2 separate regions of the Homo sapiens genome follow, and region 2 is linked to region 1. The links come from fine-mapping of genetic effects on plasma protein levels. Region 1 holds a variant in brackets. A gene starts in the other region. All regions are shown on one strand. Distances are from middle to middle.

Region 1 (5,379 bases):
CTCACTCCCATTGTTTCCCAAACATCCCTCCCTTCATAAAAGCTGTCTGGCTGGGAGCTTAAAATATTGCTGGACAGTAAAACCTACCCATCAGGGCCAATCCAGTCATATCTGCTCAGTCGTGCAGCACAGTAGGGGCGGGGTAGAGAAGTGGGAGGTGGGCTTTTAGGCAGCAAAGGAAAGAGACGAAAGTTGCCATTTTGCTGCTGAGCGCCAAGAGAGAAAGAGCACATATTTCTCCGTGGGACACTCCTTGTATTGGCAAGTTTTCCTTGGGTGATATTAGTTTGTAACCTTCCCCCCAATTGTTCTTTCTCAGCCTAATCTAAGGGCCATATATAGGCTTCTCCAAAAGGAAAAAGGTTGCCAATAAGATTCAGTCTTGGGCTGGGATGGCTAGACTTACACTCCAACTCTGAAAACCCTCTTCAAGTTGACCTAAGAACTGGCAGAGGTTTGGAAGGGAGAGGAATGCTGGAATAATCAGCAGGATGGGGAAACAGAGATGTCCAAACTCAAACTACAATTTGACTTCTTAAGCTCTTTTCATGTCTACAGGAATCCACAGGGACCTAAACCAAGTATTTGATATTTATGAAAAAGTTTTGTGCCCTTTTCACTCAAATTCTACAATAGAAATAATAGTCATAATTACTGAATGCTGTGGGGGTAGCGGAGGCTTCGTGCTCAGCATTTTCCATGTTGGAGCATTTAATGGAGCACAGGAAGGGATCTGGCTAAGGACCATAAAATTCCTCCTAGGAGCAGGTTCTGTTGTCTATCTATGAGAACTGCTGGCTAGTGGCTGTTCTAGAAACTAGAAAAGAGGCACTTTCCACCTGGTTACCAACCAGAGTGGTAAGTGGCCATTGAACGCTTTGGATAACTTATTAATGGATGTATATGTGTTATTCTGCCTCTTCAAAACCAGAGGAGGGCTATGCTGTAATGGGCTTAGATCTAGAAGACCAGGGCTCACAGCCTAGCTCTGCCCTCACTAGCTAAGCCCCCATCTTGGAGACTCATTTCACCTCCCAGCCTGTCTTTTTGTCTGGTAATGGGGATTGATAATGCCAAGTTCACTGGTTCTCAGACATCCATCTGGGGATCTGTCAGTTCTAGCTCAAGATGAAGGTTTCCACAACCTGTGACCAAAATGTGACAATGATAAAGTTAACAATGTAGTAAATGTTTCACCAAGTTAAGTGTGTTCAATTTAAAGGCTTGTCTTTTATTCTGAAGTTATGTCCTCTCCAGTTTTGTGGTGTTAAAATCCCCTTTTATGAAATGATGATGAAAATAGACTGTAGTTGTAGTTAGTAATTTAATAACTCTTTTTTTTTTTTTTTGAGACAGAGTCTCGCTGTGTTGCCCAGGCTGGAGTGCAGTGGTGTGATCTCAGCTCACTGCAGCCTCCACCTCCTGGGCTCAAGCAATTCTCCTGCCCCAGCCTCCCAAGTAGCTGGGATTACAGGTGCCCCACCACCGTGCCCAGCTAATTTTTGTATTTTTAGTAGAGATAGGGTTTCACCCTGTTGGCCAGGCTGATCTTGAACTCCTGACCTCAAGTGATCCTCCCACCTCGGCCTCCCATAGTGCTGGGATTACAGGCATGAGTCACCACGCCCAGCCAATAACTCTTATTTTTATGTCCTTGTTTGGCAAAATAAGGAGTTGGTATCCTTATGTTGGTCACACTAGTTTGTTATTATTATACTAGTCTGTGAAATCTAAGTCTGAGAACCACTGGCCTAGTTCACAGCTTGTTATGAGGACTGAAATAAGATACGTGAAAATGTATCACTTAGATCAAGGATACCCAAACATAAGGTGTTATTTTAATCATTACCTCTAGCCATCATTTTCTGGTGGGATGTTCCTGGCCATATATGGACACCCTGGGGTTGGAGGCTTGAACTCTATCCATTTATTTTCCATCTGTAATAGGTCTGTTCACTAAATTTTCACAAGCAAAATAAAACAGAGAATTATCTCTGAGAAAGAGAAGAGAAATAGTCTTCCTTTGGTTCAGATTTCTCCCTGCTCCCACAGAACGCTTTGCTTCTCTGATCTGACTTCCTTTAAATTTTCACTGTTAGAAGTCAGGAAACCAATACATTTCCCTTCGCAGCTCTAAAGTGTCTCTCCTTAACAGCACAGTAGGCCTGTTTCAACATCATGGGGTTGGAAAGATTGTGTCCTAAATTACAGTTTCTCTCCTTCAGTTATCACAAGAAACTGTAACTAGACATTTAAAAAAAAATACAATCTTAGCATGGCGGCTTAGAGTATAGAAAGACATGGGCTTGTTTGGCTTTGGTTTCAAAATTACTAATGAGTGGTCAGGAACGACTTCTTGTGTCATGAACATGTATCATGACACTCTTGTCAAGAATTGTTGGCCTTCCAGTTTATATATTTGATCTCATACAAAATAAGCAGTTTTGTGTCTCAGAGCAGCTGGTTGGGGATCAATTTACTATCCTTTTTGTTATTTACCATTTTTTACAAGTTCTTAATTTTTCTGCTGTTAGCTGTAGCAAGAGGACTGAAGTTCCTTGGTCTCTAGTATTCATATTACAGGAATTTGGGGATTGAGAATTTCAGATTTCACAAGGATTACTATTAGAACCATGCACTGCTGTCTATGGAGCTCCCACTCTGTGAAGGGCTTTGTTCTGTGTTGTGATGGTTCACAAAAGATGAGGCCAAAATGGTTCCTGCCCTCCAAAACCTTTTGATACTAAA[G/A]GGGGGAAAACAAGATTGGTTAACATACAGGACTGAGAGCATGTGCTCATCACACACATTCATGTGGGTATGTGAGTGAAATACACTGTCAAAAATGAACTGATATATCAATGAGGGTAAGTATTAGCAAGATAGTTAAGATTCAGTAAGATATTAGTAAGATAGTAAGATATTAGCTAAATCTTATAGAAGTACAGTTATTCAAATTGCTGTTTTAACATAAATTTTAGAATGAACTATTTGATAAGAAATGAACTTTTTCCTGGCTCTGCCACCAGTGAGCTTTATGCTTGGGCTGCTTACCTGATTGTGATGTTTCCCACCTATTTTCCAAAAGGCAATGGGAATGGCTACCACTCTTACCAGGGCAATTACTAGACTTAACTATAGTCTGAAGAGTTAAAAATAGATACATGTGGCTGGGATTGAGTTGCTGGTTCCGATTCCGAGCTGCTGGGTCCTTCCCCCTCTCCATTACCCATTTCTCCAAGGAACTCTTCCCAATGCCAGACCCATGACTGGGGATGCCACAGCTGCTGTCACTTTTTCAGGAGAAGAGAAGCTGCTGCAGGATGCCCTGCCTGATTGGGAGCTTATGAGGCCTCAAGAGGAGGAGCACTCTCTGCTCTCCCACAAGAAGCGAACAGCTATTGTGCCTGCCCTGACAGCACAGGCTGGACATTGCAGATGCCTGCAATTAGTATCCTGCCACCAGGTTCTGTCTGGCCAGACTCCAAATCACAGGTTGGAAATAGGCTTTTGTGTTTAACAAATATCACTGTGATTAAAAAACAATAGGCATATCCCTTTAGCCCCATAGGTTCCTAGGCCTATAGCATGGGGCATGGCTAGAAGAAGCCCAGAGCAAGATCCTCTAACATGGGCTCTTGCCCTGGTCTGAGGGCAGTGATGAGTAAACTTATAACTCTAGAGATGTTCAAGCTGCAGGAACAACTGTTCTCCATTGAGGTGGAAGTTTTGCTCATCATTCTTTATAGGTTACAGGTTTGCACTGGATGAATGACCCAGTTGCAGCCAGCCCCTTGTCAGCTCAATGCCATTTCCATTAGCCATTGCTGTGCTACAGGCATTATATACTATCATGTTTAACGATATTTTTTCTATAGACCAAATTTTTGACTCTATTAAAACAGCCATATGTTACAGACCCTGAAACATTTTCATTCCATAGGACACTAAAAGTGTCCTAGAAGACCTTCCTCATCCTGTGACATGATTCCTTCCCAAAGCATTCTCTCTGTTCTTTGGATTTAAAAGAGTAATAATAAAAATATACGGCCCTCAATGTGTAAAGCTATTAATAAGGGTTTCCAGATTTCAACCTAGAGAAGAGGAAACATAAATTAAGAGCACAGAAGTCAAAGAATTGTGTAGCTTTGATTGCAGGCAGTTTATCTCAATGGTGTAGTGGGAAGAACCCAGCCTTTGTGATCAAGCAAACAGAACTGCTGCTATTTAGCTGTCTAATCTTGGACAATATATTTAGCCTCTCTGAGCCTCAGATTTCTTTTTTCTTTTTTTTCTTTTTCCTTTGAGACAGGGTCTTTCTCTGTTGCCCAGGATGGAGTATAGTGGCACATATCAGGGTTCACTGCAACCTCGACCTCCCAGGCTCAAGCAATCTTCCTGGCTCAGCCTCCCAAGTAGCTGGGAACACAGGCATGCACCACCGAGCCCAGCTAGTTTTTAAAGTTTTTTGTAGAGATGGGGTCTCACTGTGTTGCCCAGGCTAGTCTCTATCTCCTGGGCTCAAGTGATTCTCTTGCCCTGGCCTCCCAAAGTTCTAGGATTACAGGCATGAGCCACTGTGCCTGGCCTTCAGTTTTCTTATTTGTTGGAATCAACTTAGTTAACAAATACTTATCAAGTTCTCACTGTGTGCTGGGCTGTATGTCAGGCATTGAGTATATAGCTGTAAATAAGACAGGCATGGCTCCTACCGTCATGGAAATTACAGTCTAGCAGGATCAAGTTAAATGAAATAATATAATGTCAAAGTTCTTTCACAAAGTTGGTATTCAATAAATGCTAATCCCCTTCCACTTCCCTTCAAATATACGATCATTATATATTCTGACACTCAAACATAAGATGGCCACAGACAATTTCATACATACAAGAATTGTGTTGGGAGCCCAGACACCCATAGTATAAGGGAACTCTTCAGCATTATGTCTCACGAAACTTAGATCAGTGTGTGGTCTTGATTTAAATCCATGTAACCAAGGGTTTCTATTTATGGTCAACAATGAATCCTTATTTTTGGTGGACTTTAAGGAATTATACAAATATTGCCTCATTGATGCTTTCAGACCATTTGTGAAGTGAATGAGAATAGGTATTATTATTATTAAACCCATTTTACAGATGAGGAAGCGGATGGAAGCACATTCTTCGGGGCCTTCTTTGTTCTCTAGTCCTAGTCTGCACAAAGGAAGCACTGGATAGACGCTGTGTGCACATTGACCGTTCTGGCAACTTGGAAAGGAGAGGTACCCCGCGTTAGCAAAAACAGATATTGACTCAGGGTTGCATTGCGGCCGCTCAGCTCTTGCCTTCTCCCTCATTTCTTCAGGTGGGTGAGAAATGGGCGACTGGAGTTTCCTGGGG
Region 2 (5,379 bases), 28 Mb before region 1:
TAAATTTCATCACCATCTGAAAGAAAATTACTCCGATTTTGTTTAAGCAAGAGAAGAATTCAGCTGAGAAATTATCTAGCAGGCAGCAAAATCAGGGAGTCACTTCCCATTGCAAAGCAAAAGAAAACAAGGAGCAAGAGGATGGTCCTGGATAGCTGTTTAGACAATCAGACATACTGCTAACATCTCCTTGCCTTAGAAACTCCGTGATGTTTAAATTAACAATTGGCCACAAGCCAAACACAGGAACACTCAAAAGTTTAGAAGGGTGTGCTGCAACTGGTACCTTAGCAAAACACAATAATAAATTAAGAGGATTCAAGAAGCCTTCACTGTAGACTCTAAGAAGATTTAAGATTTGTACCGAGAAACGGCTTCTAAATCTCTTCTACTGCATTAGTTTAGCATCTAAAGAACACCTGTCTAAAAATCAAAATATCTAAATCCTATCCTTTGAGTCAACTTGACTAACACTCAACTTGACTACCTAAAAGCTAGCTAATAATCGCAGCACCTCAGCAGAGCAGAGGTGGAGGGCATAGTTTTATGCACTGAGATCCTATAATAAAAGAAGCCCTATGTGTCAGAGTAATCCCATTTCTGATATCATATTATTTAATACTTAATTTTTCAAATCACTTTACAATTATATTTATTATTCCCTACAATTCTCTAAAGCAGGTTATTCCTTTAGTCCTGCTTCATAGGTGAGGAGACTACATATCATGAAGATTAAGTTATTTACCAAAACAAGTTAATGATAGACCAAGGATTATTACCCTCAGACTGTCTCATTGATCATACTCCTCTCTATCCTAAAGCTACACTTAAAGCTTTCACTCAAAGAAAAAGGAAAAGCAAAAACACCATCATATATGCTCTTTATTAAATGCTTCAGAAACAACGGCTCTGCTTCATCACTACAAAGCCTCCTGGTCCACTTCTGAAATTCTTAGTGACCTAGACGTGTACGAAATTTGAACTTTCCAAGAAGTATCTAGTTGGTGCTGAACAACCCAGTACTATTTTCGGGTGATAAATAACCTTGTTCTCTTTTTAAACATCTGCGATTGACATGTCGACTGACTGTTAACAATGAACAAAGACCATATTTTTCTGAAGCTCATCATCTTCCTAACCTTTTCTTTGAAAACAGATGTAGTTCATGTACTAGTTTTTTGGTGAAGGTAAAAATCTTTATTCAGATTAGGCTCAGAAAAAGAAGGGGCTGCTTTCCGTTCAACAAATATGCACAAGACAGCATCCCACTGGGAGCATCAATCTCAGAAGCAGTAAAACACAGCCTCGGCCCTGAAAGGACTTTCTGAACACCTTTGGAGTGTCATCCGTTTAATATACATTATTTTAATTAATCCTATTAGCTGGATAATTTCTTTCCCATTTTATTGGTGAGTTCATATAGCAGAGCTGGATTTGAATCCAGGATTACAGAGCAGGGCTCCAAAGCCCAAGTTATTTCCACTAAAGGGTCTGAAGAAATGTAGAATCTAAAAGTGTGGGTGGGATGGGGAAGATATGATTTGATTCCCTTTCCTTGGTCCAACCGTGTTAGAAACATCCAACCATAAAGAAGCTTTCTAAGGAAGCCCTTTGAATTAACGTATCCACTTTTTCTCACCCGCCCGTGCCCCACCCCCAGCCATGCCAAAGGAGCAGCAAATGCTGCTGCCAGGTTGGAGGAATTGGTGATCGTCACACCACATTCCTGGGTCTGGACACAGCCTGAAACAGCAGCAGAGCTCCGCGCCTCGGAAAGAATAACAGCAGTTGAGATTTTTAAATCATGTGCCTCAGCATGCAGCCACACCAGTTGCCCTACTTCTCCTGCCTCCACCTTTCAAAGACGCGAGCAGCACACACGGCTCCCCCGGACTTTCGGTGGGGTTGGAGTGTCAAAACTCAGGCGCGCCGCAAAACCCCGTCCCCATCCAAACCAAGCCCACACACCCGGCCCATGTGCCGCCCCCTGGCAAAGGCGAGGCTGGCTGCGACGGTGCAGGCCGTTTGGCTTGGCGGCCCTGCCCCCGCTCTCCACGCCAGAATCTGGCATTCCTTCGCTCAGCCCCTCCGAGGCCCGCCGTCGGCTCTCGCTCGACCCCAAGAAACGCGGAACCTGAAGGGCAAAACTGCCCACCTCCCTGCACCCTGGCACTACGAAAAAGGAGTTTCTGAGACTTGCTGCCGGCCTCCCTCCTGCCGAGGAGGCGTGTAAGGGGTCCCGGGCCGCGGGGAGCAGAGGCGGCGGGGAACCCCGGCGGTTGGCGGGGCACCACGGGAGGGGCCCCCGGCGATGTCCAAACTCTTGGGAACCCAGCGAGTGGCCTCGCTCCGCGCCGGCGGCCGAGCCTGGCCTTCCCACACAGAGAAGGACCGAGGGGGAGAAGGGTCGCCCCAGGTGGCAGCCCCGGGCGCCGCGGACAGCGCCCCTCAGCCCGATACTCACCATGCGCGGGGGCCGCGCAGCACAGCCAGAGCGCCAGCAGCGCCCACAGCAGAGCGGGGCGCAGGGCGGGCATCTTCTCGGTCGCCTCCTCCTCCGCCGCCGCCGCCGCCGCCTGGGCAGATCCACATGGGGAGGGGGTCCCGATAGAGGAGCCCCACTCTCTCCTCCCCTCCTCCTGCTTCAAAGGCTCAGGCCCTGGCGCTACGCTCCGAAGCCCAGGCGCAAATGCCTCGACTCCCCGCGCCCCGAGTCCGCCGCTCCTCGGCCGCCGCCTCAGCCGCCGCCCGAAGTTTGGCTGAAACTTTCTCGGGTGTGCAACGAAGCAGCCTCGTGTGTCCTTCCGCCTCAGCCGCCTCCTCCCACCGCAAGCCCCGCCCCACTGTCGCCGCGGCCTCGGCCCCGCCGCCTTGGGCACCCAGGGGTTTCCCGCAGGAAGAAGCGCCGGCCCGAGCTCCGCGCGGAGGGATCTACTACGAGTCACTGGCCCCGTCCGCATCCTTCTCCAGCGGCCCCGGGGGCCGCCGCGCCTTAACTCGATCAGGGCTGCAGCGGCTCGCTGGCTTGACCAGTGCAGAAGGGGCGTGGGGGTGAGGGGGGTGGGGTAGGACTCTGAACTTCAAGCACTGGAGTTTGCCGGGATCGTGAACTTGCAGGGAGAGGCGGTCCTCATCCAGTGAGGTCTGTATCGCCACCTACACCCACACATCCACACACTGCTTTGCTAGCTAGAGGAATGCTCTGGAGTAGGACCAGTGCTGTCAAAGAAGGAAAGTGGGCCAAGGCGCCAAAGTCCATTAAAAAGGAATAGAGCCATCACGGAGTGGTGCTGCCCCATTCATTCATTCATTTGTTCATCCGTGTAGCGAATATTTCTTAAGTGCCTTACTTTGCGTAGCTGTGTGCTTGGCAGTGGGATGATACCAAAGATGCACAAGCAACTTTGAGTACCAAGACTTTGCCGCTGTGGGCTGGGGGATTCAGGGAAGGCTTTCCCAGAGGAGCTGGGATGAAAGCAGGATCTTGAAAGGTCAGTAAAATTTGTATAAGACAAGGAGACCAGCTAAGCTAAGGATATTCGTTGTAACACTGTAATAGCAAAACCTTGAAAACAACATAAATGCCCACCCTTAGAGGAATGGATGAATAATGTATGGTATATTTATAAAATGAAATGCAACACAGTAATTGAAAAGACTATAGCTATTTATGTCAATAGGGATAAATCTTAAAAACTAAATGATAGTGAAAAAACTAATCACAGAGGGAGACAAAGTATACCATTTATGTATATTTTTTTCAAGACAATACTACACATTATCTGTGGATGCATATATATAGATATAGATATTAAGAGACTATAACCAGAATAGTAGTTACTTCCAGGGCAGGAGAGTAGGGGGTGTGATCAAACCTGGGTACAAGTGGGCTTCTAAGAAAAGAGCTAAAAGTAAGAACAGCAACAATAGTTGTATGGACATATCATTCCAGGAAAGAGCCCTCGTGAAAGCAAAGGTACAGTCAAAAGAGTAAGTAAATGAGTTCTGTCTCTGTTAGCAGTGAGAGGAGTCAAGGACGGAAAGGGGGTTGGGACCAAATTATGCAGCCTTGAATGGCAAGCTGAAAGGGTGGGGAGGCAGCTACCTCTTAGGTCACATAAAACTATTGAAAGTTTTTGAACAGAGTTGAGATTGATGGAAAGGAAGATTGCTCTGATAATTCTGTAGAAAATTGATTGTTGGGGGAGCAAGAGGTGAACTGGAGCCCCAGGACCAGTCAAGAGTTGGTGAACAGTCCAGGCACAAATTTAAGAAGACCTGAACTAATAAGGTAGATTTCAGAAGGAATGAATCCGAGACAATGTTAAAGAAACAGAAAAAAAAAATGGAGGTGTGACTAATTGGATGTGGGAGTTTACAATCCTGTTGGGATGGGAAATCCTACCCATAGAACCTCTCCCTGACTCCTATAGGATAAAATTCAAACTTCTAAACATGGTACATACAAGGCCTTTTCGTCATTGGGCCCCATCTCCTGTCCTCCCTGCCCCTGTTGTGAACTTCACACAATAACAGTATTGACTAACTTGAGATTCCCCCAAACATATCTTGCTGTTTCTGTCCCTGTATCTTTTGTTCCTTTGGCTTGGAATGACTCCTGTAGTCCCCTTCCCTCCTCCTCTTAATGAACTTCTAATCATAATTCATCCTTCAGTCCAAAGAAGGCTTTGCCGACACCGCAATAAATTCCTCCCCCTAACAGACAGTCCCTCCACTGTCTTCCACTGCCGCTTCTTTATCTTAACACCGATACTTATTTTTCACACAGGACTCTTTGTATTTCTGTGTTCTCAACTAAGTTTTGAGGTCCTCATGGGCAAAGACCACAGCCTATTAATCCCCAGTGTCTATCACATAATAGATGTTGAACTAGAATGTGAAACAACACTAAGCAAGTACAAGTCAGTATGGGCATAGACCTATGAAGTTCCAAAACTGCATGTTAACAAGCACTTTAGGTAAGCAAGTACCATTAGTGAAAGTAGTCACATTGAAATACTGGAAACCCTTTTCAAAAATAATGTAGTCAAAATATTTTTGGAATTTGTCTTGTGCAAGTATGTTCAGAGAAAGATAACATTATTTTTCAGTTGTTTACCCACAGTGTTACCAGTTCGATCTTCCTCTTTACTCACTAAAGATAATTCATAGTGACTTGGCTGCATACAAATTTTAAAAATCACCTGCAAAGATAAGTTTTGTCACTATTAAAATATATTCAGAAGAATATAAGATAGTTATCCCCAAAGAGCAACTCTAGAAGCGACTGTAGCTATGACAACATTATTAAAATAAATGTGCAGGCCAGGCGTGGCGGCTTATGTCATAATCCCAGCACTTTGGGAAGCTGAGGTGGGC

Alleles and levels. Positions count from the first base shown, and alleles are read on the strand shown. Strength reflects both the effect of a copy and how common the allele is.
With allele A in place of G in region 1, the plasma level of the protein whose gene starts at base 2,793 in region 2 is higher (moderate association).

Evidence for each region. PIP is the posterior inclusion probability: the model's chance that the variant is causal. The UK Biobank Pharma Proteomics Project read protein levels with antibody pairs (Olink). The fine-mapping took linkage between variants from a reference panel, not from the people measured, so its PIPs are less certain.
Region 2: NOTCH2 starts here. The variant in region 1 is fine-mapped to the plasma level of the NOTCH2 protein (UK Biobank, PIP above 0.99).

Annotation. Positions count from the first base shown.
Region 1 is chr1:147,902,601-147,907,979 of GRCh38, forward strand. GJA8 (gap junction protein alpha 8) reads left to right here and starts at 195. Exons shown (of 2, transcript NM_005267.5): 1 at 195-261; 2 at 5,345-5,379. The coding sequence starts at 5,356. The variant G/A (reference allele first, on the strand shown) is at 2,749.
Region 2 is chr1:120,066,870-120,072,248 of GRCh38, forward strand. NOTCH2 (notch receptor 2) reads right to left here and starts at 2,793. Exons shown (of 34, transcript NM_024408.4): 1 at 2,465-2,793. The coding sequence starts at 2,537. It overlaps LOC101929178 (a long non-coding RNA gene), which reads left to right and starts at 2,959. Exons shown (of 2, transcript XR_254374.4): 1 at 2,959-3,142.